Linked DNA regions of Homo sapiens: region 1 is linked to region 2. A link means that fine-mapping ties the variant in region 2 to the expression of a gene that starts in the linked region. Tissue or cell type: whole blood. Region 2 holds a variant in brackets; the other region holds the start of a gene. All regions are shown on one strand. Distances are between the middles of the regions.

Region 1 (9,595 bases), 25 kb before region 2:
GATGGTAGTGGTGATGGGGGTGGTGGTAATGGTGATGATGGTGATGGTGATGATGGTGATGGTGGTGATGATGGTGATGGTGATGGTGATGATGGTGACGGTGGTGACAATGGTGATGGTGATGGTGGTGGTAGTGATGGGGGAGGTGGGATGGTAATGCTCATGGTGATGATGGCTGTAGCGGTGATGGTGGAGACTGTGGTGGTGATGGTGATGCTGATAATGACAAAAGTGTTGATGATGGTGATGGCAGCTAACTCATGGAAGCTTTACTGGGGCTTGTGCTGTACTAAGTATCTCATTTAATATTAACTCATTTAATATTCAGTACGAGGCTACACGGTAGGTACCATCATATTTCCCACTTTACAGATGAGGACACTGAGGCACAAGGGAGGTGGCAGTCTCCCCAAGGTCACATGGCAGGACTCTAGCAGTTTGGCCTCAGAGTTTATGTGCCTGCCCAGCTCTCTGCACCACCTCGAGTGGAGTCTTGGCAGGTTCTGTTCCCAGCCGGTCCTTTGAGATACTGCCTCAGGGGATGTGACCCTATATCATCCTGATAACCCAAGGGGCAGGGAGACAGCTCCAGAACAGACAAGACAAAGTTGGCCTTGTAGACCCACACTGCCCTCCAAGGGCTTCCAGACTGGAGCAGAACAAAACAAACACTGCCCAAAGGATCTGTGGCCTGCTAGAAGGTCGAGGGTTCCTGGCTCAGCATCTGCAAAGATTGCCTTGAGCCCCTGCCTCAGACGACACGACAAGGGACAAGGAGTGTGTTCCCCAGGCCGGCCTCCCTGCCAGACACCTTGGAGGAGGCCTGGCGTGCTCCTGCTCCCTAGTCTGTCCAGGCTTCTTGAGTGATGAATGGTTGCTTACTGAAATCAGAGCAGGCCCTCTGTATTAAAGGCTTTATCCTGTCTCCTGCCTTCCACAGCTGCTGTGGGCAAAAGGCTTGCCATGAGGCGACCTGGGTCCCAGCCTCAAGGCCCATCCCTGCCTTTGGCCTCTGGGCACCAGCTCTGGAGAAATCTGTGGTCTCTGACTCATGGCTGTGTCCTGCGAGGCCTCCATCTTGACCAGACACCTTCGATGCATCTCAGGAGCACCTCACTATGCTGCATGAGACTTGCACACAGCCAGGCCCTGGTGAGCTCCAGTAAGATCAAGCAAGCCCAGGTGTGTTGGGGGTTGGGGGGATACCAGGTGATTCTGGAGCAGGCTGGACACAGGCCAGGCTGTGGCTGCACCTCAGTCATGGGGAGGCCGCTGTAAGCCTCATCTCGTGGAAGAGACCAACAAAGGCTGAGAACCTGCTCACCACTGCCCTTCCCAAGTCTCAGTGATGATGTAGTGCGGTAGGACAGTGCTGGGCAGGTCCAGGTCCAGCAGTCAGGAGGGCCCTCTAAGCTCGGACCTGGGGGAGCGACCCTGAAAGACGAGGGGCGGGCATGGAGCTGGTGATGCAAGTGAGCCAGGCTGCCAGGGAGGACAAATCCTGGAGTTCCTCCAAGGACCGCAGGGGAGGCAGACCCTGAGGGGAGGTGGCCTGCGGGGTTCCTGCCTTCCTCCCCTGCTGTCTCAGGGGACATAGAGGCCAGCCCCTGCTTCCTCCTCCAGCCACCTGTCCCTCCCTCAACTGTACCCCTTCAGGCCACCCATCCTGCCAACTGCTGGTCACCCACCCCCAGCCCCGGTGGAAGTTCCGGACACTCTCCTGTCCCCTTGGCTTACCCCATCTGACTGGCTGGGCCGTCCCGAGCTGGGCATGTCCTAGGCCTTGCTGCGGCTGTGCCTACAGCCAGAGGACCAAAGGCTTTAGGACCTTTTGTTTGGATCAAGTCTCTTGAAGACAAAGTCTAAAGACCTCGGAGGTGTCTCTTCCCACTCTTGGCCTTTTCACCCCAGCCAGGGGCGTACTCCCGAGGCTCCTCTCCAGCCCAGCCAGGCAGCTCAGGGTCCTCTCACTGTGGGCAGCACCAGCCCCAGTACCCAGGGTGCTTCCCAGAACTGGGCAGACCTCACTGACTGGCATGAGCAGGGTGGCCTCTGGGGAGATGCTCAGAGCAGCAAGCCTAGGACAGCCTCCCAACCCCCGAATACAGGGTCAGACAGGAGGGGATACCTGGGCTGATGAGGTCCCCAAGGACACCTGCACTTTAATCGGGGACTCTGGAAACTCCCATGGCCTCTTCTTCAACAAGCAGGTTGGAGCGGGGCGGGAAGCAAGTGGGAGCAGGTGCGGGGGCAGGGCTGCTGGGGGAGGCCCTGAACAGCCACCGTTTAAGTTGCAAAAATGGTCTCCCTGTCTGCAGATGGTCTTTTTTATACCTTACCTAGTGGAGAGCAGGTTTTAAAAACGGCTTCCAAGTTCACTTAACAATACACAGTAAATAGCACGGGCCAGAGGGGAAGAGGCAGAGGGAAGGCGGGCAGGGCAGAGGGAAGGTGGGCAGGGCAGAGGGAAGGCGGGCAGGGCAGAGGGGCAGGAGGTACCATGGGCCAGCCGTGCTTCTCACTGCCCTCTTCCCCTCTCCAGCCAGAGCTGCCAGCTGCTGGGTGCATCTGTCTGGCCCTCTGTGCCCCGGAACCCTCTTCCCCTGTCCTGCCCGCCGCCACCCAGCCTTGGTTCCTCTCAAAGCCCAGCAAGTCCACAGGTGGGTCCCTCAGCACACCCCAAACTGTTCCTCCTGCTGGCGTGGGAAGTCACCAGGAGCCCCAGGCGCACGCAGACACCTTGCAGAGGATCCTGCCCACCCCCACCCCCACCTCGGAAGCCCTTGCTTTTGCCCACCTGGTGGGGCCCTGGTGAATGCTGGTGCTCCCCTGGACACTCTTTCTGGATCCCTCCACCCACATACAGCCCCCTGTGCATTAGCCCCACCCCATGCTGGCCCCACCAGCCTGAATGCTGATTCACCCTGGCAGTCCCCAATGCTCAGAAAGGGCAGTGCCCAGCAGGCCTCTCCAGCAGGCAGGAAGAAGAGCCAAGCAAGTGGGCAGCCTCAGGATGGCCGCTCAGCCCAACCTGGAGCAGGGTGGCGAGGGGGTCCCTGCTGCCTGGCATTTTTCCTCCAAAGTCAGCCCCACCCCTGGAGGGGGCAGCTGCAGAGGCCTGTGGGCAGGACAGCAGGCAGGCTCCACTGCAAGCCTGGCAACCAGTGGGCAGGGGCTGGCTGACCCTGGAGAACGGGGCGCCTTGAGGTGCCTGAGGCCCCAGGAAGGGCTTAGTGTTGGCGGGAGCCCCAGGCCACACAGAGGAGGACAGACACTCACTGGGCTTCCAGGCCTCCTCTGGGACTGTCCCCGGCCAGAACTCTGGCTCATTCGGCCTCGGTCCCTACCCCTGTTCTAGCCGGACGGTCAGGTGTCCCAGGCCCCGCGGGCTCCCTCACTCCGCCCTGGCTCCTCTCTGAGGCTCCCACTGCCGCGCGGCCGCCGGAGGGCGAGGTCGACAGGCGCCAGCGACCCGACGGTCCCCAGTGGCACCAGGGGCGGTGGTCCTCAATTCCCAGGCTGGGAGGAGCCCTGCCCGGCGGCGCTGGGTCGCCAGGACAACTACGCGGTCCCCCGCCCCGCCTCCAGGCCTCGTCAGGCGCTGCAAGTCCGGCTCAGAAGCCCGGCCCGGGGCCAAGGTCACCGCAGCAGGCCGGGCCCCTGCGTTCTGAGCCGGGTGCGGACGTGCTGGTGCTCGGGGAAGTCGGGGGCTTTGACGCCTGAAGGCGCGGGAGCCGGGCGCCTGGGGGAAGGGGGTCCGGCGCCGTCACCTCCCACTCCTCGCCCGCGGGTCGGGGAGCCCCTGCCGCGGGGGAAGGAGGCTGTTTCCTTTGTAAACTGGCGGAGGCGCGCCTGGCCCCTGGGCCCGGCAACCCGAAGAGACACGCCCGAGACCTCCGGAGGGAGTTAACCCCCCGGGCCCCGGTGCCGGCCACCCCCAGGCGCGCAGGGTGGCCCTGAGCCGGGCGCGCGCCCGCTTGTCGCCCCGAGAGGCGCCGAGCCCAGTGGGGCGACCCAGTGTCCCGCCCCCCACGCGGCGAGGGCGACACTAGGCCGCTGCCCCCGGGCGCCCCGCGTCCCCTCCGCCTGCCCCGGCTTCCTGCGCGCGCCGCCCGGGACTTCCTCGCCGCAGTGCCCGGGGCCACCAGAGCCCAGCGCGGGGCGCTGCCGGGACACGCGGGCGGCCGACCCCAGGCGGGAGGATCCGGGCCACCGGGGAGGGAGGGAGGGCGCAGGGCTGGGCCCGGAGGGGGAGGGGGGCCCGGGACCGGCCCCAGGCAGGGGAGCGGGGGGATGGGGTCCCGGGGCTCCGGCCGCGGCGGGTGTCCCCCCCGCCGCCCCCGGGCTCGTGGCTCTCGGGTCCTCCCGAGCCAGGGGACACTCCCGGCCAGCGTGGGCCGCGAGCCCGGGCGCAGCCCCCTCTCCAGCCCGGGGGTCCGCACCGCGCGTCCGGCCGACCTCTGCGGGCGGGCGCGGCTTCTCCCGGGACGCGGCGGCGGCGGGCGGGGTCCCCGGGAGCGGAGCCCGCGGCCGCGCGCCCCCGGCCCGGCTCGGCTCGGCTGTGGCGGCCGCCCCAGCGGAGCTTTGTGACGTCAGGCGGCCGCGGGGCGGCGTCACGCGCGGGGCTGACCCGGCGGCGGCGGCGGCGGCGGCGGCGGCGGCGGGGCGGGGGCGGCCTGGGACGCGGCGGGAGCATGGAGCCGCGCGCCGGCTGCCGGCTGCCGGTGCGGGTGGAGCAGGTCGTCAACGGCGCGCTGGTGGTCACGGTGAGCTGCGGCGAGCGGAGCTTCGCGGGGATCCTGCTGGACTGCACGAAAAAGTGAGCGGGGGCGCGGGCCGGGACACCCCCGGGGTCCCCACGCGACACCCGCCTCCGCCGCCCGGAGACCCGGGACCCGCCTCCGGGTTGGGGGTGGCGTGGCCCCGGCGCCCGCTTTCGGTTTCTGCCGAGCCTGAGTTTCGGGGCGCGCGAGCGCGGCCGCCACTCGGGGGGGCAAAAGTGGTTCTCAAAGTCGTCGCGACTTTTCGGGGCGGGCGCCGGGCCGGGGCGGGCCGGGGCGGGGGGCGCGGGGCCGGGGTCCCGGAACTCCACACATCTGCCATAATTAATGCACTTTTCTTTGTTCAGAGCCACTGTTGAATTCGACTGTTGGCAGAATTGTCGTTAAAGCAGGGGAGGGTCAGATGCGCCGTGGCCTTGCCCTGGCAGTTCCTCACAGGTGGGGGTGCCCTGTCGAAGGCCACGGGCCCCTGGCTGCTGGGAGTGACTCCGCGGCTGAGGTTTGGATTCGGGGAGAGCAGTTGCGCCCAGCTGTGCGATTTAAGAACAGTTTCAGGCCAGGGAGCCCTGAGTCATGGGGGCGTGAAGAGGTACAAGCTGTGGGAGCCGTGGGCACATCCCCCGGGAGCCCTGGCTTCCTGGGTGGGGGGCGCAGGGCAGGGCGGGGCGGTTCCTCCTGAGAGGCACCTGTGCACGGGCTGCAGGGACCCATGCGGTGCAGATGAGCCTCCTGGACACCGCGTCACATGGCAGGGAGCTGTCGCTGCCAGATCAATGATTAGGCATGAATCAGGCTGTGGCCTCGCTGCGCTCCTGCAGGGCTTTCTTTTGAAACTGGGAGCAGGGAAAGGCTCCTCTTGTAAAGGCCCAACTTTTTCCATCCGTGGAGCCCAGATTTTTGCCTGGTGACATGAATTAGCAGAGAGGACCGTGTTCCTTCCACAATTATTTCGCAGACGTTATCTCTTCATTAGATGTGCCAGAAGCCATTTATCCACAAGTCACGTGATTTAACATATGGCTCCCGTGTGGTTCCTGCCCGCTCCGTGTGGGCTACCGCTGGGAGTGCACGGGCAGGATGGAGGGACACTCGGGGGGTGAGAATCGCCACCTGGGAGCTGCCATCCCCTCCACCATCGGCCTCAGCTTCCTCTGGCGGGCAGGGTTGGGCTTGGTCCTGGTCAGCAGGGCCGCACCCCTGCCAGACCTGCACCACCTTGCCTGGCCTTTCCTCCCTGAAGAGGGGCACGAGCGGCAGTGGGTTGCCCCATTTCCCAGGTTCCTTGACTCGGGACAAGGGAGGCTGAGAATATCTGCAGTGGCCTCGGGCTCTCCTCCCTGAGGCCCATGGCTAACCTGGTTTGCAAATCTACACCACCGCCTCCCCTTCATGGAAAAAACCAGGCCCGATGGGACCCCCGGCGTGGGAACTGGCAGCTGTAGGATGCATGGGTGTCAACCCTGCCTGCCACGTTCAGCTGTAACCAGAGCCGCCCACGGAGCCGGGCGCTGGGCCTCTGCGGGCACAGCCACTTAGCAGCCAACCTTGCTGCCTTGGGCTGGCCCCCTTGTCCTTGTGGGGAATCTGAAGGTAGAGCAGGCTCCCCGACCCCCAGTCCTGAGGCTTGTCCTGGAAGGACCCCTGCCCCCTCCCTCATCTCCCCTGTGCCTGAGTCTGTCCGGCTGTTCTCCTCTCCCCCAGCCCCAGTCCTGAGGCTTGTCCTGGAAGGACCCCCGCCCCCTCCCTCATCTCCCCTGAGCCTGAGTCTCCAGCCGGTTCTCTGCCCTTGTATTCCGAGTCCCAGGGCTCCTGTTTCCAGCCCTGCCTCGGACCGCAGGGTGCTGACCTGCCTTCCCCAGGTGCCAGTTTCTCATCAGGGCGTGGTGCCCGCCCTTATCCCCTGCATGTGACAGTGGAGGCCCAGTCCCCAAGTGTGGGTGCTGACTCACAGGGAAGAGCTGCTGGGAGCCCTATGACAGGTGTCCGCCCACCTCAGGGAACCTGTGGGTCCCAGCACAACCGGCGCTGTTGAGCGCAGGCGGCGGGCAGCCAGGCACCTGTTCAGAGCAATCCCACGGGAATGGCGGCCCCGCTCACACAGGCGCCGGGATGCAGGGCTGAGGTGGGCCCAGCAGCCAGCGTTTGTTGTCGGCCGGTTTGGGAGATGGCATTCTCTCCCTTGCTTGCAAAGCAGAGGGGAGAGGGGCTTGGCAGGTGGGTGGAATTGCCTGGCTTGTGCCACAAGGGCCATGTGATCTGAAGCAAGATTCTCTTGAGTGTCAGCCTGCGTGTACATCTGGGTGAGTTCACTGCACACCTACTGTGTGCCAGGAAGTGGGCTGAGCCCGGAGCAGGCGGCCTCCAGTGATCTTCCCCCAGTCTGGGCCAATGTGGTGGTGGTTCCTTCCAGAGCATCGATGACACAAGCCTTGTCCTGACCTGCGTTGTTTTGTGGGTGATTTGGGGACATGCTTCTGGTTGAGGATCTTGGGTGGGGTGGCCCTGGCTGAGGGGTGGCCTGAGGACAGACGAGGCTCCGAGTGCGGAAGGGCTGGCCTGCCCCACCAGAGCCTCCTGGCTCCATCTCTGAGCTGGTATTTATCGGCCTCCCCCAGTTGTGGGTTGCCTATGGTTCCAGACACAGACTGCTGGAAAGGTCAGGGGACTGTCCTCTGTGAACCACACCCTAGGCCAGACACCCTGGCCCACACTGAGAACCCCAGACACTGCCTGTCCCGGCAGAAGGGCACCCTGAGCTCTGTCCTGGGCTCACCTGTCCAGGTGGAGGCTGCACTGCTGGGGGCTGCTCTTGGGATGATTCACTCAACAACCAAGCGGGGGAGCACCTGGGCCAGGGCTGCAGTGGTGATAGGCTGTGCCCCCTGCCCTTGGGGAGTGAGAGGGACACAGGCCTAGTGCATTGAAGGCCAGGGCACCAGGAGGCCTGGCTAGCATGGCTGGTCTTCGGAGCGTCTCGAGGGGATGGCATCTGAGTGAGTGGGTAAGGAGGGTGTGGGGTGGGGGCCTGGCCTTGTGCTACTTGGGGAGCCCCACAGGGCTTAGAGAGGGACTATGCTGACGGCTCATAAACCCTTGAGTCCAGGACACAGGGGGCCGGCCGTGGCCACCTGGCCCCACCTGCTCTCCCCTGGAGATCCTGGGGCAGGTGCCCACAGGGTGAGGCAGGCTCCCCTTGTGGGGCCTTGGAGGAGGCGCTCCCCTGGTGTCTAGCCTGTGGCTTCTCCTGCCAGCCTGCTTTTCCCTAACCCCTGAGAGAGTTGGCCTGGGGAGACCCCACTGCCCCCAGCAGGCCTGACCTGCCCGCCCTTTTCCCGCATGCTGTCCTGCTGTGGGTGTCTGCAGGGCTACAGGGAGACTGCAGACGCTTTCTAGACTGACACTGGAGCATAGCCGAGGCCTTGGGTGCCAGACTCAGGCTGTCCTGCGCTGCGCTGAGGCTGCCTGTTCCTGTTCCAGGAGCCGCATTTTCTTTACCTCTTTAGGCCACAACAGGGTGTCCTTTCCTGATCAGAGAGTGAGGAAGGAAGGTCCAGGGTGAATGTGGGCCCGGGAGGCCAGGCAGGGGGCTGCCATGTGGGCATCTGCCATCTCATGGCCCTGGTCTGTAGAATGGGGAAGCCGTGGGGAGGCGCTGCCAGCGAGTGCAGGGGGCTTGGGCAGGCAGCCAGGGCTGTGCTCCTCCCGGCCATGGTCCCGGGCAGACCTCAGGCCTGGGCCTTTCTGGGAGTTTGGCTGAGCCTGACATCCAGGCGAGGCCCCAGGGCCGCCACGGCTGAGTTAAGGCTCGGCCACTTGTGTCTGGCTGAGGACCTCAGGCCTGGTCTCCAGGGCCCCCGTGTCCTTGCCAGGACACTGCTGTGCCATTGGGAGTGGCACTGGCGTACTTTTTGCTTTGGGGTCTGGTCCGTTCTGCAATTAGAGACTCCAGGGCGTCTCACCCCTGCCTCAGTTTCCCTAGCCCTTTCTCAAAGCAAAGGTTATTTGTTCTGTCCCTGAGCTCGCAAGGATGTCGCGTGAGGCTTATTTCAAGGGGCCCCTCGCATGTCCTCTTCCCCACAGGCAGGGCCCCCATGGGGCCCCCACATGTCCTTCCCTTCCCCACAGGCAAGGCCCAGCGGATGGCTCTAAAAGGGCAGCCTGGACCCAGCAGGCCCATCTAGCTCCAGGGCCACTCCATCTTCCCACCTGCCAAGGCTCGGTGTTACCTGTGGGTCACAGCCAGGCCAGTGGGGCCCCTGTCCCTAGGGGGTGGGTGTGTGGGGAACTACACTGCACCTGTGCACTTCCAGAAGGACCACTCTTCACGTCCCAGGGTCCAGGATAAGCCACTGAGGTTCTCCCTGTGCCAGCGCCGTCCCCGTGCCTGGAGACCCCCGTGGGTACCCACCCACTCAGCCTGGAGGCACGTTCCCTGGTCTCGCTCGGCCTCACTGGCCAATCTGCGAAATGGGAAGACTGTGATCTGTATCTCATGGGGTTGCTCAAGGAGGGCAGGAGCCGAGGTCCCAGCAGCCTGGGGGCTCTGCTGTTGGCTTTGCAAGATCCCTAGGGCTGGGTTCCCCTACCCGTCCCAGCCTGCGGAGTGAGCTGTTCCCACCCTGTTCTGTTCCCACCCTGTTTACCCACCAGTGCGCTGGGGTGCGGCCTGGGCAGGGCGGCAGCTCCAGGAAGGAAGTATGGCTGCCTGACGTGCCAGGGTCACCGGCCGTTTTTGTAGGGCTGGCTTGTCCAGTCCCTGGGCACTGATGCAGGTGTGACTCAGGGTCCCAAAGGGGATGGCAAAGCTCAGGCTG
Region 2 (9,595 bases):
CTTTAAAGACCAAAAAGAATAAAGAAAGAAAAGAAAAAAATTAATCTGCTCTTTCTTTGTTTAAATGTTAAAAACAAAAAGAGAGAGAAACATATGTCATAGTTGAAGTTGTGACTTGTGCGGCCACAGTTCACACTCATGCGTGTGTCCCTGTCGGGGCTGACGGGGCCTGAGTCCCCTGGGCACTGCTGGGCGGGGCCCATGTCGTACGGGTTGGGGTGACGCCGCCACCGGCTGCATCTCGCTGCCTCCAGGTGGGGGGACGCTGGTCACCGCCCTGAGCCCCAGGAGGGCTGTGGGCTGAGTCCCCATCTCCAGGCCTCCCTGCTGGCTTTCCAGTGGACGCTGGGATTTCCTGGAGAGGCAGTGCTCTGCACGCGGGGAGCTTTGTTCTTTGTTTCCTGGAGTGACTCCTCTCATCCCTTGTTTCTTGATTTGCTCATTCAGAACCAAGGGAGATCTCAGAGATGACGATGGTGGCTTTGCTTGTTCCTGGTTTTGCTAGAACATTCTGTGCTCTAAAGGCATCGCTGCCCTCAGCAAGGATCGTCTGGCGGGGGAGGGGTCGGGGGAGGGCAGCAGCATACACCTGGAGGGTCCTCTCCAGGGCACATGAGGGAACAACCCTCATGGTTTCCTATGGTTCTGGACCTGACTTGCGAGGAGGGGCATGGTTTTCAAACTGGTTTGTAGCAGCAGAGCCCTTTTCTCCAACAAAATCACCCAGAATCACTTCCTCCCGGAGGGGCTGGGCTCATCCTCCTGAAGCCCTCCAGGCCCAAGAGTCCTGGGAAGCCTTTGAAAATCCAGGGAGGGGCTCGCATGAGCCCAGGAGAGCAGAGCCAGGACTTGAGAGGAATGAGAGCAGCTCCCCTTCCCCTCCTCCCTCCCCGGCCCTGCCCACGTGGGTGCAGCAGAGTCAGGGCCCTGGCCCTTGGGGCTGGGCATCTCATCCCTCTGAGCTCCGGTGCCCAGGGGCTGCCCCTGCCTGATCTGCTGCTCGGGGTGACTCCCCCTGCCGCACACCCCACTTTGCACCCAGGACCTCCTACTGACTAGGGTTGGCTCCCCTTTACGAAGGAAGGCCTTCGTAAAGCTTGGCACTGCTTCAAGAAATGTGTGTGTCCAATGGAAGGAGCAGGCCTCACCCCTGGGACAAAATATGCGTGCAGCCCTGGGCACATTCACTCCCAGCTGCCCAGCCTGCAACTAGAGCTCAGCCACTGCAGGTGACAGCAACGGGACCCGCCTTTGAGCCTGAGGCCAGGACTGACGCCACAGCCTGCAGCTCCTCCCCAAGCCCAGCCCCAGCCCTTGCCCTTCAATCCTGAGACCCTGAGATGCATGGGTGGGGCTTTCATCCGGTGAGGAGCGGAGGCCCAGGGAGGTGGGTTCCCCAGCTGCCAGTACCCACTGGTCAGGCTGGGCTGGACCAGGTCCTGAATCCCCGCCCTTCCACCCATGGGCTCCCCAGGAAGGCTAAACTGAGGGAAGAATTCCTGCTGGGAAAGCCCTGTTCTGGGACCAGGGTTTCGTCCCTCTATTAGAGGGGGTCAGGGGGACACCTGGGAGCGGAACACCTGAGGGAGGAGCACCTGGCGGGGAGCCTTGGGGGAGGAGGCACCTGGGGGAGGAAGTCTGGAGGAGGGGTCTCCTGGTGGGGGGCCTGGAGGAGGGGTCTCCTGGGGGAGGGGCCTGGAGGAGGGGTCTCCTGGGGGAGGGGCCTGGAGGAGGGGTCTCCTGGGGGAGGGGCCTGGAGGAGGGGTCTCCTGGGGGGGGGCCTGGAGGAGGGGTCTCCTGGGGGAGGGGCCTGGAGGAGGGGTCTCCTGGGGGAGGGGCCCTTGGGGAGCCAACCCTAGTCAGTACGAGGTCCTGGGTGCAAAGTGGGTTGTGCGGCAGGGGGCTTGGGGCCTCAGCGGGGCTGCCCGGAGCTGGTCCTGGGCCTCTCTTGCTCTGGGTCTCCCCTGCTCTGGGTCCAGCCTCCCAAGCACCCCACCTGGCAAGACTTCCTCGCTCAGAACAGAGCCAACCCTGGCTGTCTTCCCAGGGTTTGTCGTGGAGAGGGCTCTGGCCCTTTAGCCTTCCAAGGAGCTTTCGGGGTTGGGGTACGTTTGTGACCCCAGTAGCCGCTGTGCTGGGGGCCCAGGGCAACTCCTCCGGGAGCAGGGAAGGCACTGCTGGCACCACCAGCCCCGCAGGGTCACCAGCATCCCGTCTCCACCAGGGCTGCTGCTGTCCCTCCTCTGCTGAGGCCAGCTGTTACCGTGTTCGACATGGACCAGGCCGTGTGGGAGGACACGGGGTGGCAGGTGCAGGGAGCACGGTCTGTTTTCTGTCACTCTCTGGTCCCAGCCTGAGCCCCAATCCCTACCTCTGAGGGTCACACTTCCAACCCACCCCAGACAGAGCTGGAAGCAGGGGCTGGCATGGGCGCTGGGGTAGACGCAGGGGTTGTCGTGGCCTGGCGTGGAAGAGCTGGGCTGGACGCAGTGGGTGGCGTGGCCTGGGGTGCTGCTCTCCAGCCTTCTTTCTCTTCTTCCTCTTCCTCTTGTTCTTCATCTTCCTCCTCTTGCTGCAGATCCTCCCCCAGGTGGCTCCATTTCTGCTGGTCCCATCTCCCGGAGGCCCTGCCCACAACCCCCTGCCCGCCATCTAGGGGGACCCTGGCGTGGTCCAGGAGAGGGAGTCAAGGCCTGTGTGGGGCTCCTGGGGCTGGAGTCCTGGTCTGCCTTCTGGGGACAGAGACTAGGTCGCCCTGGGCTCCAGCTCTGTGGCCTGGCTGTGTGGGCTGGGCCAGGGCCTCTGCGTCACCTCCTTGCCTGGGCTTCTCACAGTGCAAGCCCCGCAGCCTAGGCCCTGCTGGGTGGTGGTGGGATGGCTGGGGAGGGGCAAGAGCAGGTGAGGAGTCCTCACTGGGGGTGCATACTTTGCATTACAGCTGGGGAGGCTGAGACCCGGGGGGCCACAGCTGGTTCCTGGACTCCAAAGCCCAGGACCCTTCCAAATCCTGCCTGGACGGCACCGTGGCCAGGACCCCAGCCAGCACTTCCCTTTTCTGCGAGGGTTTTCTGTTTCTTTGATTATAAAATAACCCCTGTTGGTGGGGGGAAAAAATTAGCAAAATAAAGAAAAGCAAAAAAAAAAAAGAAAATTAGAATCTCCCGCAGTCTCACACCCTGTGGGCCTTTTGCGTATTTCTTCCCGGGTGAGTTTTCTGGGCATTAACAGATGTTTGCTCTGCAGACCTGGCCTTGTGTCACCCTGGAACTCTGTGCCCAGCTCACCCTTCCGTGGCTTCCTGTGGCCGGGGGCTCCCTCCCCTTCCTGCCCCAGGTCTGAGGTGCCAACGGCTGCCTGTGGCCAGGGGCATCTCCCCGTGGACACTGAGGGAGGAGCCGCGGCAGGGCTGGGCTCTCCCGCTGGGCTCCCTGCACCCTGCGGCCCCGGCCCCAGCCCCACCCCCAGCCATGGGAAGGGTGCACTCCGGAGAGGCCGACGCAGATGGGGCCCTGCCCCTGGCCTGAGCGTGGCCGTCATCTGCTCAGGAGGGTTAAGCTCCTTTGTGCCCCAAGGAGCTTCAAGCCGATCAATACCCGGCTGGAAGTAGGGGGCTGCAGCTGGGGGGGCCCCACCGCCCTGACCCCAGATGGACTTCCTGCTCCCTGCCCAGCTTCTCTGCGGGGGGAGGTCAGGTCAGTGGGCCTCCTGCTTGGCCTTTGGGGCCACCGCCCCTGGGCTCCAGCTGAGGCTGTCCCAGGGCCGGTCTCCCTTCCCGCCCCCACCCTACAGAGGCGGCCTCACCAGCCAGCCTCTGCCCCAGCAGAGTTATTTTTAGCCCCAGCCCCGCCTGCTGCTACCACGGGCCTTTTCTCCGCAGAGAGAGGCGGGTGAGGCCTGAGGGCCTCACCCAGGGCAGCCAGTTCCCCAACCACGAAGGGAGGCAGGAGAGCTTCCCTGTGCGGGCAGGCGTCGCTGACCCTCCAAGGGGCAGAGCAGTGGGG[G/A]CTTCCTTCCTTCCTGGGTGTGGCTGGGGGGAGGGGGCTGAAGGCCTGGAGCCGGAGGGGCTTGCCCTAGAGCCCCATAGCCAGGCAGGGGTCAGTGTCCACAGCTGGAGGGGCTGGAGAGGTGAGAGAGATGGTCCCAAGGGAGCTGGGAGGCCCAGGAGTGGGCCCAGTGCTCAACCCGCTGCCAGGCAGGGACAAGACCTGAGAGATGAGAGGGCGGCGGGGGTGACCCTCGGAGGGCAGAGGGCGCCAGGACGGAGAGATGAACGGGGCAGTGGGGTGACCCATGGAGACCCACAGAGAGCAGAGGGGCACCAGGATGGGGAGACGGAGGCCAGTGGGGGCTGAGGGGTCCCGGGGGAGGACTGTAAGGAGCCACATAGTGGCTGCGGTCGGCGTGGCTGGGAGACAGGGGTCCAGGAAGCCCACTGGAAGCTGCCGCCCCGGCTGTAGCTGCAGGGCTCTCTGTGGGAGCCGGGAGCTGGGTGCAGAGCTGCGTCGAGGCTGCCTGAGGCCTGGCAGCCCAGCAGGAGGGGACTTACCCCCACCCCCCCACGGAGGAGAAGGCTCTGGGGCCTGCTGGGTGCAGACGCAGCTGGGATCTGCTTTGGGGAAGAAAACCTAGGCAGGTCACCGAGGCTCTGCCCAAGCCAACGCCTGTCACCTGTCACCGAGGTGTGGGTGTCTGTCCTCCTCCCAGCCGTCCATCCCCCTCCCTCCTGGCCCCGCTCCAGCCCGCAGCCCCCATGGGAGCCCGAGAGAGGACAGTCTCAGCAGGTGGCACAGACAGATGCGGACTCCTCACTGCAGGTCACAAGGCATGTTTTCAGAGACCAGCTGCGGTGAAGATCATCCAGCCCTTGGGCCCCTGATCCGTTTGGATACAGTTTCAAGCATGAATTTCTCCTTTGGTGGTTTGCTACAAAGAGAAGAGTTCTCATGATTTCTTTGGGGTGTTCATCCTATGATTTTGGGGTGAGGATTCGTGACAGAGACAAGCAACAGGAGTCCAGGAAGCCCTCGGGGGAGACGGGAAACAAGTCTTTTTGAAAAAACAGCTTTCTTTGAGACGTAGCTCACATATCATATGATCCCTCCCCTTCCAGTGGACACGTCCATGGCTTTCAGCGTGTTTATAGATGGGCAACATCCCCACGGGCCCTTTTAGAACATTCGCTTCACCTCAGAAAGAAACCCCACAGCTTTTAGCCATCACCCTCCTCCCCAGGCCTAAGCAGTCCCTCATCTGCTTCCGTCTCTGGGGACTTCCCTGTTCTGCGTTCTGTGTGACATGTGGTTGTGTGTGATTTATGATTGTGTGTAACATGCGTTCCATTTCATCCATGTGACATGCGGTTGTGTGGGAGATATGATTGTGTGTAACATGCGTTCTGTATGATGTGCGGTTGTGTGTGAGATACAGTTGTGTGTAACACACATTCTGTATGACGTGCAGTTATGTGTAAGATACGGTGTGTAACACATGTTCCATGTGACATGTGGTTTGTGTGATTTATGATTGTAACATGCATTCCATGTGGTCCGTGTGACGTGGTTGTGTGTGATACACCATTGCATGTAACGTGTTCCGTGTGATGTGTGGTTGTGTGTGACACACCGTTGTGTGTAGCATGTGTTCTGGCAGGCGGTCGTGTGTGGCTTCCTTCGCCGAGCACAGTGCTTTCACGATGCCCCCGTGTTGGCGCGTGCCTGTGCCCCATTCCTTTCTATGCTGAATGATGCTCCCCATGTGGGTGAACATATGGTGTTTGTCCATCTGTCAGTCTGTGGACATGTGAGCTGTCTCTGCCTTTTGGCTGCTGTGCACAAAGCTGCTGTGAGCTTTCCTGCAGTCTCTGTGTGGCTGTGTGTGTGTGTGGCTGTGTGTGTGGCTGTGTGTGTGTGGCTGTGTGTGTGTGTGTGGCTGTGTGTGTGGCTGTGTGTGTGTGTGTGGCTGTGTGTTTTTGCTTCTTTCAGGCTCACCCCTGGGGGTGGAGCCGCTGGGTCCTGTGGGTCATGATCATGTGCGTCATCTTCAGGAGGGTGCCAGGTTGTGCTCTGCAGTCCTAGGCAAGTGGAGGTGGTCCCGCTGCCAGCTTCAGCCTGAAGAGCAGGTGCTGAGTGAGGTGCTGAGCTTCCTGGTGTCCCTGCTGCACCCTGGTAGGCCAGCACCCCACCCACCAGAGCAGCTGTGGAGAGGACAGTGGGCATGGTGGGGACTCCAAATGGGACGCACACGGCCCCCAGGGGAGGCTCGGCTTGGGCACCCAGGCGGCCGGGGTATCTCTAACCAGTGGCTGCCCATGGGGTGAGTAGGGCCCTGCTGCCCCATCAGAGCTTGTCCCACTGTGGCTGGCGAGGAGATCAGCAAGGGCTTGAGGCCCATTCTCGCAGCCTGTCCCCTGCCTGGGGTGGCCTGGCATTCAGTGGTGGGGTCCCGGAAGCCCCGGTGCCGAGGCAGGTGTGCTCTGGCAGGCTTGAGCTGGGCCACCCTGGAGGCACCACTTGTCTTTGCGTTTCCCTCTCACCTGCTCCCTGGACAGGCCCTCTGCATTTGAGGGCCTGTTTGTGTCCCCAGGGCATCTCTGGATGGGCATGAGCACACAGGGACCCAGCACGTGGGTTCTGCACCATCCAGCACTGTCCATACAGGCCCTGGCATGTCCTCCTGGCCTGTAATTTTGTTCTGCATGGCTTGGTTTTTGCACGAAGGGGAGCACAGTATTCCTTTCTCATCCTCCAAAATGGATTGCAAATGTTCTGAGCTGTCACATTGGCGAGAACGAAGCCCCTGCTAATTGGCGCATTTTCCTGCAACCACTCCAGGCTGAGTTCTAGAGGAAGCCTCTGCCTTTCTGTCTCACGTTGCGCACTTTCTCCCTGAAATATTTAATGTGCTAAATTCCAACTTCACACACATCAGCTCTAAAGCCGACTAATCATTTAGCTTGATTGTCGAACTGAATTTGGCTCTGAGATTTTAAAATAAGAAAAAAAACTGTCAAGCTCTACGTAAGGCAGACACTATGGCTGACTCTTCACAAGAAAATATCTTTCTTTCTTGAGGGATTTGTGGCAGAGTCCATCTTTATGGAGAGTAGAAATCGTTTTACCCACCAGGGCAGCATATAAAATGTTAGGCAGATGTTAAATATTGATGTAGAAACTCAAAATACTTTGTCTCTTTCCAGAAATGAGCGTTTTGGTTTAATTACTCTGAATCTAATGACTGTGGAAAAAACACAACACGTGTGCGTTCCGAACGGAAAACATTTAGATTAAGGAAGAATTTCAGCTCCTCAAAACTGGGAAAGGAGCATACTGGGCCTGTCCTGCAGTGGGGCTGCTTGCTGATACTGACACGCATGTGCGACTGGGTGCCCATGCGTGTGCGTGCGTGTGCCGTGTGGATGCCGTGTGCCCGTGCCTGCGCGTGCGTGTGCCGTGTGGGTGCCGTGTGCCCCTGCGTGCGCGTGCGTGTGCCGTGCGTGTGCCGTGTGGGTGCCGTGTGCGCGTGCGTGTGCCATGTGGATGCCATGTGCCTTGCATGTGCCGTGTGGATGCCGCATGCCCGTGCGTGTGCCATGTGGATGCCGTGTGCCCGTGTGTCCACGTGCGTGTGCCGTGTGGATGCCGTGTGCCCGTGTGTGTGCCGTGTGGATGCTGTGTGCCCGTGCGTGTGCCGTGTGGATGCTGTGTGCCCATGTGTGCCTTGCGTGTGCCATGTGGATGCTGTGTACCCGTGTGTGTGTGCATGTGCCATATGGATGCTGTGTGCCCATGAGTGCTCATGTGTGTGCCGTGTGGATGCTGTGTACCCACGCGTGCGCGTGCTTGTGCCGTGTGGATGCTGTGTACCCACGCGTGCGCGTGTGTGTGCCGTGTGGATGCTGTGTACCCACGTGTGCGCGTGCGTGTGCCGTGTGGATGCTGAATTGCACTTTCAACGACGTGACCGTTCCTTCCTTGCAGGCCACCTCCGGAGGTGTTCACTGCCGGTGGCTGTACCTGGCCATAGATCTGGGGGCTGTGCTGCCCCAGGCATCCCACCCTGTTCCAGGACACAGAGGCCAATGCTGTTCCCCTGTTCCGGCAGGCGTGGGCTGCACGCCTGCTGGCAAGGGGCTCAGCTGGCCTGAGCCTGGGCCAGCTGTCCCTAGAGCATCTGCTCCTGTGGGGAGGGGGCGTTTTGACAGCATGGGGATAATTTTTTTCATAATTAAGAGTTTTTTTTTTAAGTGAATAGACTTTATTTTGTAGAGCAGTTTTTGGTTTACAGAGCAGGGAGCAGGTAGCACAGGGCATTCCCTGAGCCCCCACCCACAGTGCCCTTATGCCCGTCATTTGCATCGGCACTGGTGCCAGTCCAGGGCCTGTTAGGAACCAGGCCACACAGCAGGAGGTGAGAGGTGGGCAGGCAAAGCATTACCACCTGAGCATCACCTCCCGTCACATCAGCGGCAGCATTAGCTTCTCATACGAGCATGAATCCTATTGTGAACTGCCCATGCCAGGGAGCTAGGCTCCGAGCTCCTCACGAGAATCTAATGCCTGATGACCTGAGGTGGGCCAGTTTCATCCCCAATCATCGCCCCCCCCAGCCTCTGGTCTATAAGAAAAATGTCTTTCATAAAACTGGTCCCTGGTCCCTGGTGCCAAAAAGGTTGGGGACCACTGCTGCTGTTCCATCAGTTTTGACAAATGCACGATGCCGTGTGTCCACCATCACAGTATCGTATGGAATCATTTCACTGCCCTAGAAATCCCTGCGCTCTACCATTCATGATTTACTTGGACAAAAACACATACGGCCACCAAGGAAAACAGCCATAGTGAAGCAGATGTCAAAATATCAACAAAGCAGATGTGTGAGGGTGGCAGTGGCTGCATTACACGTCGCACTGGATAACAAAACCCAGCGTCCAGCAGCCCCTGAGTTTTAGAGGTGGAGGTGAGTGTGGACAAGTTTGAAAAACCTGCAACAACTGCAAAGTGATACAAACACACCTGTGTTTTCTATTTGAGATAAAGCCCTGGGATGGCTGGCGTTCCTCGTGGAAGGAAATGCCAGATTTCAGTCAGAGCTTAGTAAAATAGAGATGTTGCTTTTTCTCGTCCAAGTTCACAGACCCCATGAATGAAGCATCCCTGCTCTAGGAAAGCACGGAAAGCTTGTGCATCAGAGGGACATATGCCCACAGGGATTGAAAATGTGTTTTCAAAACAAGGTATGTTGTTTGCAAAATCTCCACCATTACAAATAGCCACGTAGGCTTCTGATGGCTCTATGTGCACAGCCAATTCCGAGTGAATTCAATTATTTCACATTGACAGGAAACAGGTTAATTAGGAGAAGTTGATTAGGCTTTGCAAAAGGAGATGTAATTAATGCCCAACCGCATGCCAGGCACGACGGCTGCATTTCAATGTCTTCACATGACTGAGAGAGTTACTGCCTGAGAGCTGGGAGACAGCAGGGGAGCAACCAGCATGCCGGCGCCTGGGGTGTCCAGCAAGTGGCAGGGGGCGCTGCTGGCCCAAAAGGTTAGCTCAGGTGTGCCACGATCCCCATCATCATCATCATCACTATCACC

Alleles and levels. Alleles are on the strand shown, and positions count from the first base shown. SD is a standard deviation of normalised expression in the study named.
In carriers of allele G in region 2, the expression in whole blood of the gene that starts at base 4,668 in region 1 tends to be lower than with A alone (large effect, 0.94 SD a copy in GTEx).

Evidence for each region. PIP is the estimated chance that this variant, and not a neighbour inherited with it, causes the effect.
Region 1: PWWP2B starts here. The variant in region 2 is fine-mapped to the expression of PWWP2B in whole blood (TOPMed, PIP 0.96).

What each region holds. Positions count from the first base shown.
Region 1 is chr10:132,392,533-132,402,127 of GRCh38, forward strand. PWWP2B (PWWP domain containing 2B) reads left to right here and starts at 4,668. Exons shown (of 3, transcript NM_138499.4): 1 at 4,668-4,819. The coding sequence starts at 4,695. It overlaps LOC124902526 (a long non-coding RNA gene), which reads right to left and starts at 4,024. Exons shown (of 2, transcript XR_007062342.1): 1 at 2,129-4,024; 2 at 283-1,798. RefSeq lists enhancers at 2,586-3,109, 3,110-3,632, 5,203-5,725, 5,726-6,248, 8,235-9,011 and silencers at 3,441-3,820, 3,841-4,270, 4,681-4,790, 4,801-4,940.
Region 2 is chr10:132,417,820-132,427,414 of GRCh38, forward strand. It overlaps PWWP2B (PWWP domain containing 2B), which reads left to right. Exons shown (of 3, transcript NM_138499.4): 3 at 1-40. Among named protein-coding and RNA genes, the nearest start is that of LINC03068, 22 kb to the right of the region's middle. RefSeq lists enhancers at 501-1,404, 1,405-2,309, 4,120-5,023, 5,841-6,367 and silencers at 3,433-3,482, 3,513-3,572, 3,603-3,662. The variant G/A (reference allele first, on the strand shown) is at 4,002.